Linked DNA regions of Homo sapiens. The protein of the gene in region 1 purifies or fractionates together with the protein of each later gene. This does not show direct contact. Each region holds a gene or a part of one and is shown in the gene's direction. Other genes may lie near its edges.

Region 1 (3,819 bases):
CTGCCCACACCTTCTCCATCCAGCATATCAGTCAGCTGTGTGGCCTCTGTCCCCTCAGCCCCTTCCAATAGCCTGGCCCTGAGTCATCCTCTCCACCTCCTGTCCACCCCTCTCTCCATCTCCCAGTCTGAGGAACATCCCCCTTGAGGGACTCCCCTGCAGCCCCCATGACCAGCTCCTCCTGCTTCACCCGCCTTGCTTCCCTCCACACAGTCATGTGGCCAGGTTCAGCAAGAAGCTAAGTCTAGGAACCAAAAGATGTCAGCTCCAGGGGTGGGGAATGAAGCCGTAAAGGCAGATGCTCACCTGCCCCCACATCTGCAACACACAAGAGTGACACACAGGAGTGACAGGTGTAACACACAGGTGTGATACAGGTGCAAGTGGCAGGTGATACAAGCTTATTCATCAGACAGCCAGGCACCAGGAAGCTGGGGGCAGGGGTGGGGATGGGCTGTGAACTGGAGCCCAGGGGCCTCCTCCAAATCCGTTCTGTTCAGTCTCGGGCCCTCCTTTGCTTCCTGGGTCCCTCCACAGATGCCTCTCTCCTTTGGACATTCAACTGCCATCTTCCCAACTCCTCTCTCTCTTGTCCCCCTTCCTCAGAGTCTCCTTCTCTTGCCTTCCCATCAGCCCCAAGCCCATCCCCAGCCCTCTGGGCCTCAGGCTCCCCCACTGCATAATGGGAATAACGAAAGTATCTACTGCCTTGGGGTGCTGTGGGAATTCCATAACCTTCTTGCGTGATGTCTGGTGTGCAGGGCTGACAGTGGCTTGAACCATGGAGGGACCAGATGTGATCAGGCCCCAGGCCTTCACCTGCCCTCATGTCAGTAACACACCCCACAGCCGCCACATCACCAAGCCCTGCCACAGACTGTTTCCTCCTCACTCAAGGATGCCTCACGTTTTCTTTCTCCATCTGAAATCACTAACCCATCTGCTCTTAAAAGCTGAGCTCAGCCTGGGCGCGGTGGCTCACACCTGTAATCCCAGCACTTTGGGAGGCCAAGGCGGGTGGATCACTTGAGGTCAGGAGTTCAAGACCAGCCTGACCAACATGGTGAAACCCCATCTCTACTAAAAATACAAAAACTAGCCAGGTGTGATGGCGGGTGCCTGTAATCCCAACTACTCGGGAGGCTGAGGCAGGAGAATCACTCGAACCCAGGTGGCGGAGGTTGCAGTGAGCCGAGATCGTGCCATTGCACTCCAGCCTGGGTGACAGAGCAAGACTGTCTCAAAAAATAAATTAAATTAAATTAAAATAAAGCTGAGCTCAAATCTGAGCCTGGGCAGAAGTCATCTTCCCTCCTTGCCCTGCCAGAATTCTCTGTGCTGGTGCCGCTATCACGGTATTCACTTAGAGTGTGCCTGGAGAGCTTGCTGTGGGTTGGGCTCTATTCAAAGCACTGCGCTAGTAGTGACTCATTTAATCCTCACAGAAACTCTTGTGAGGTCTGTACTGTAATCCTTTCACAGATGTGGTTTGGAGCACAGAGAAGTCAAGCAATTGTCCAAGGCCACACAGAACGGGACAAAGCCAGGACTTGAATCCCCACGGTTTGGCCCCAGGTCTTTGCTCTTCACTACTCAATACACTGCTTGTCCACTAGCAGAGGGGTGTGGGAATCGTAATGACAAAGCAGCCTGTTGAGCACCCACTCCAGGCACCATGCTGAGCACTGTGCGTGGTTAACGTGCCGGACCTCCCCACACCGAGTCGTTGGCCACATGTGGGTTTGCATCTGAGTCCAGCGCTTGCATCCAAGCCTCAGCGCTTGCATCCAAGCCTCAGCACTGGCCCACTGGCAGGAGCACGCTTTTGGTCCTCACTCCCTGGAGGGACTCATGCCCTCACCCTGTCCAGCACGAGTTTGGCTCCGGGGACTGTTGGATTGACTTTCCTAGGGATGTAGTTGGAGTCTGTAGCATCTTTCAGCTGCACCATTTAACCCAGTGTCTGCCATAACAAAAAATCACAGACTGGTGGTCTAAACAGCAGACAGTTCGTTTCGCACAGCTCTGAAGGCTAGAAGTCCAAGGCTGGCTGGTGGGTTTCCTTCTGAGGCTCTCTCCTAGGTCTGTCAGTCCCTCCTCCTCCTGTGTCCTCAAGTGGTTGTTCCTCTGCATGTCTGTGTCCTCATTTCTTCTTCTTAGGACACCAGTCATACAGGATTAGGGCCTACTCCTCTGACCTCATTTTACCTTAGTCACCTCTTTAAAGGCCTTGTCTCCAAATACAGCTGCATTCCAAGGTACTAGGGGTTAGGACATCAACTTGTGATTGTCAGCGGGATACAGTTCAGCCCATGACACCCAGGGTTTCAAACTCAGATGCCAACGGGCCTGACAGGAACGCATGTGAATGAACTGCGCTGGGAAAGACTTGGCCTCCTCATTCATTTGTTCTCACTTTTGAGGGAGACACAGGTAAAAATATCTCATTTTCCCCTTTACTATGTGAAATACAAGGACACGAACATTTGTTCATGGCCATATCCTAGCTTCCTAGAACAAGTGCCTGGCTCCGAGTAAGTGCTCAATAAATCTGCTGAGCAAGAGAATGCACAGAGCGGCCCTGGACATTGGGGAGTGGCAGGGATCATGGTGAGTCTTGGCCAGGGGGTCAGCAGGCACTTGGCTCCAGCCAACTTTTGTCCGATCTCCTGGAATCCAGACTTACATAAATCTGTTTTTCAATGCTAGCAACTAATTCACAAAAACTAAAACCATCCTGCAGATCTGTTTGCAGCCACTGCTGTCTGCCTAGGGTGCCCACCCTAGGCCAGCAGAGCAGGGCCTCCCCCAGCTCAGCCTGGGGGAGCTGGGCTCTTACCCGGGAGACAGGAAGCCTGGGGGCTGAGACTGGTGCACCCAGCCACTCAGGGCCCTACCACCCATGGTTGCCTCTGCAGGAAGGCGATGCACTGGGCGCCATGGAGAAGCTGTGCCGGCAGCTGACATACCACCTCAGCCCCCACTCCCAGTGGAGGCGGCACCGGGGGCTGGTGAAAAGGAAGCCACAGGCCTGGTGAGTTACACTCCCCCGGGCAGGTCTATGCCAGGCTGAGTGTGTGTTACAGGGCACCCCTCCCAGGGATGTAGGGAAGGGAAGGGCGGAGTCATGGGGGGTGGTCATAGAAGCTGCCTGAAGGAGGTAAGATGGAAGGAGGATTCCAGAGTGGGGAAACATCTAGAGGGGGACCCTGGTCTGGTGGGTGGGAGGAAGATGTGAGAAATTTCTAATTCCTGGTGTGCTAAAGTGGGCACTCCCAGATAAGCACAGTGTTTGGCTCATGCCTGTAATCCCAGCACTTTGGGAGGCTGAGGCAGGTGGATCACTTGAGGTCAGGAGTTCGAGACCAGCCTGACCAATGTGGCGAAACCCTGTAAAAATACAAAAATTAGCCAGGCGTGGTGGTGCACACCTGTAATCCTAGTTTCTCAGGAGGCTGAGGCAGGAGAATCACTTGAACTAGGGAGGTGGAGGTTGCAGTGAGCAGAGACAGCGCCACTGCACTCCAGCCTGAGCAACAAGCACTCCCTAGTAACTCCTCAGTTATCTCAGATGTCCCCAGGGGGACCCAGACCCCAGCCCTGTCCCTGGTCCATACAGCAACAAGGGGGTTCAGAGTCCCTTGAAGATTGGTAGGGGTTGAGGGGCATGTAGGACACAGAACCTGTGGGCTGTGATAACACCGTAGGAAGCAAGTAGAGGGGAGCCTGGAAGTAAGGCTTCCTGGAGAAGGAAGCACACCTGTCTTTTTGCAAATGATAGCTGAGTGGTGTGCCCTCACAAAGACTCTGCCAAGGCCT
Region 2 (3,819 bases), on another chromosome or scaffold:
TGAAAAGTATCTGTTCATGTCTTTTGCCCACTTTTTAATGGGGTTGTTTTTTCTTGTAAATTTATTTACTTATTTATTTTATTGTTATTATTTTTTGAACAGAGTCTCGCTCTGTTGCCCAGGCTCGAGTGCAGTGGCGTGATCTGGGCTCGCTGCAAGCTCCGCCTCCCGGGTTCACGCCATTCTACTGCCTCAGTCTCCCGAGTAGCTGGGACTACAGGTGCCCGCCACCACGCCCGGCTAAGTTTTTTGCATTTTTAGTAGAGACGGGGTTTCACCGTGTTAGCCAGGATGGTCTCGATCTCCTGACCTTGTGATCCGCCCACCTCAGCCTCCCAAAGTGCTGGGATTACAGGCGTGAGCCACCATGCCCGGCCCTTTTCTTGTAAATTTAAGTTCCTTATAGATTCTAGATATTAGACCTTTGTCAGATGCATAGTTTGCAAATATTTTCTCTCATTCTGTAGGTGGTCTGTTTACTCTGTTGATAGTTTCTTTTGCTGTGCAGAAGCTCTTTAGTTTAATTAGGTCCCACTTGTCAGCTTTTGTTTTTGTTGCAATTGCTTTTTGGGACTTAGTCATAAATTCTTTGCCAAGGCTGATGTCCAGAATGGTATTTCCTCAGTTTTCTTCTGGGGTTTTTGGGCTTTTTATAGTTTTCAGTTTTACATTTAAGTCTTTTATCCATTTTGAGTTGATTTTTGTATATGGTGAAAGGAAGGGGTCCAGTTTCAATCTTCTGCATATGGCTAGCCAGTTATCCCAGCACCATTTATTGAATACGGAGTCCTTTTCCCATTGCTTGTTATTGTTGACTTTATTTAAGATCAGGTTGTTGCAAGCATGTGGCTTGATTTTTGGATTCTCTATCCTGTTACATTGGTCTGCATGCCTATTTTTGTACCAGTACCTGATGTTTTGGTTATTGTAGCCTTGCAGTATAGTTTGAAGTCAGGTAGTGTGATGCCTCTGGCTTTGTTTTTCTTGCTTAGGATTGCTTTGGTGATTCAAGTTTTTTGTTTGTTTGTTTGTTGTTGTTTTATATGGATTTCAAAATAGTTTTTTTTTCCTAACTCTGTGAAAAATGATGTTGGTAATTTGATAGCAATAGTATTGAATCTGTAAATTGCTTTGGGGAGTATGGCCATTTTAACAATATTGATTCTTCCTATGTATGAACATGGAATGTCTTTCCATTTCTTTGTGTTGTTTCTGATGCCTTTCAGCAGTGGTTTGTAATTCTCATTGTAGAGATGATTCACTTCCTTGGTTAGCTGTATTCCTGGATATTTCATTCTTTTTGTGGCTATTGTAAATGGGATTGTGTTTTTGATTTGGCTGTTAGCTTGATTGTTATTGGTATATAGACATGCTACTGATTTTTATACATTAAATTTGATAATGAAACTTTACTGAAGTTGTTTTGTCACTTCTAGAAGTCTTTTGGTGGAGTCTGTGGGGTTTCTAGGTATAGCATCATATCATTTGTGAAAAGAGACAGTTTGACATCCTCTCTTCCTGTTTGGATGCCTTTTATTTCTTTCTCTTGCCTGATTGCACTGGCTATAACTTCCAGTGCCGTGTTGGATAAGAGTGCTGAGACAGAGCATGCTTGCCTTGTCTTAGTTCTCAAGGGGAATGCTTACAGCTTTTGCCCATTCAGTACGATGTTGGCTATGGGTTTGTCATAGATGGCTTTTATTATGTTGCGGTATGTTCCTTCAATACCTACTTTTTTGAGAATTTTTACCATGAAGGGATGTTGAATTTTGTCGAATACATTTTCTGCATCTATTGAGATGATCATGTGGTTTTATTTTTTAGTTCTGTTTATGTGGTGAATTCTGTTTATTGATTTGTGTATGTTGAACCATCCTTGCATCCAGGAATAAAGCCTATATGATTCTGGTAAATTAACTTCTTGATGCTGCTGGATTTTGGTTTGCTAGCTTTGTTAAGGGTTTTTGCATCTATTTTCGTCAGGGATATTGGCCCGAAGTTTTCTTGTTTCATTGTGTCCCTGCCAGGTGTTGTATCATAATGATGCTAGCTTCATAGAATGAGTTAGGGAAGAGGCCCTCGTCCTTATTTAAAAATAATTTCAGTAGGATTTGTACTGGCTCTTTGTACATGAAGACCATTTTAGACATAATGTTGATGCTAGGGCTAGAGTGTCAGGATAAAAAGACGTGGATGACTAGTGGATGAGCAACCTGGGATTATTTTTAATTGTTTCACTCATAAAGTGTGAGATTGATATGCAACAATAAGACATCAATTATGTCATTTATTTGTGGAACAAACACAAATTGTGCAACTTTGTAGAGTGCTCTTTTTGTTCTGGCTTAACATCTATTCCATATGGTTTGCCAAAAGGTTCAGTGACTTTTTTTCACATTCTGATTTTATCCTGTGATTTTGTAAACTCTTCTTAGGGGTTCATGTGGGATGTGGCTGAGGAACTGAAAGCTATGTTGGTGTTTGCTGAACATCGATACTATGGAGAGTCTCTCCCCTTTGGTGACAACTCATTCAAGGTAAAGATACTTTTTACTTAAAAGTTACAAGCTTTTTCTTTTCAATTTAGAATAGTTTCTAAATTATATGCCCCACTGTGAGATAACTTAAATTTGAAATGCCTAAAAGCTCAATAGTTTATATTTAATAGTTTCTTTTTAGATACAATTTGAACAGACTGAGGGTTTTTTTTAAGCCATTTTATTATAATTCTTAATGTTAATCAGTTTTTAACTCTGTGTGCCTCAGAAAGTTAAATTTTACTCTGTGGCTGCAGAGACAGCACAGGGAGCTTTTTATTATTTCAAAAATATCAGTAAACAATTCCGCTTTATAAATCGTACACTTAAATTATTGAGCCTGCCACTGGAAAAAATATAATGAGCATAACAAATTTATCTGATAAGATGTTTTTAATAAAATAAAATCAATAAAATAAGGACAAATAAGCTGTATGATGCATTAAGGCCAACTGGCCCCTTGGATTCCCTTTCAGCCTTTCCTGTTCTCACAGGAGCTTTGGCCTTTGTCACAGACTCTACCTAATAAACCAGGACACTTTTTCTTCAACTGAGTCATTCATGTACTACTACACTTGTGACTTTGGCTATATTAATTTGCCACGTGTACTATTATTTACCTAATATTTTTCTTTAATCAGCTCACTTTTTAAACTTAGCATTATCTTAACCAAGGGCTCTGTGTACTGGTTATTCTTTACAAATTACACTAAAATGAAGCAATAAATGTTCCATTAAAAATGTTTGTGTGCTTCCTAATACCATCAGTGTATACATATGCTTTTGGGAACTCTCAGCTAGAAGGACTTGGGGCCAGTCCTTTACTAGGCTGCCTATTTTGAAAGGAGTTTTTATTTTTAAAAAGGATATTTTACTATCTCATATTATAAATAAATACAATAGTAAAAATAAGTAAAAATGTTGTGTTATAAATATAAAGTGGGATGATTTGCTGATATTTGTTGAGCTGTATGGGAAATTCTATTCTTTAGCTTGGTATTTTGCGTAAATATCTGATTAAGGGACTTGACAAGTCCTGAAACCACTGGGAAGCAGTTAGCTTGTTGTAGATAGAACATAACTTCCTCTCCTAGGTTTCTATAAATGATACTGTGTTAGCAAAATGGAGCCAGGGGCTCTTTTTGATATACTTCTTTCCCTTTGTGTGCTCACAGAATATGTCAGTAGCATGAAGGATATTATAGATATTATGCAAGGATTAGAAAAAAAATGCACTCAACTGTACAGAGTGCCATAAAAACTGGAAGTAAAGGATAGTGAC

What was found.
Region 2: the proteins of LRRC75A (region 1) and PRCP fractionate together in Homo sapiens (co-fractionation; one large-scale study listed by BioGRID). This does not show direct contact.

The regions. Positions count from the first base shown.
Region 1 is NC_000017.11:16,447,060-16,450,878, reverse strand, and holds part of LRRC75A (leucine-rich repeat-containing protein 75A), read left to right. Parts: intron 1-2,918; coding exon 2,919-3,034; intron 3,035-3,819.
Region 2 is NC_000011.10:82,851,895-82,855,713, reverse strand, and holds part of PRCP (lysosomal Pro-X carboxypeptidase isoform 1 preproprotein), read left to right. Parts: intron 1-2,435; coding exon 2,436-2,537; intron 2,538-3,819. UniProt on the Homo sapiens protein: Cleaves C-terminal amino acids linked to proline in peptides such as angiotensin II, III and des-Arg9-bradykinin. This cleavage occurs at acidic pH, but enzymatic activity is retained with some substrates at neutral pH.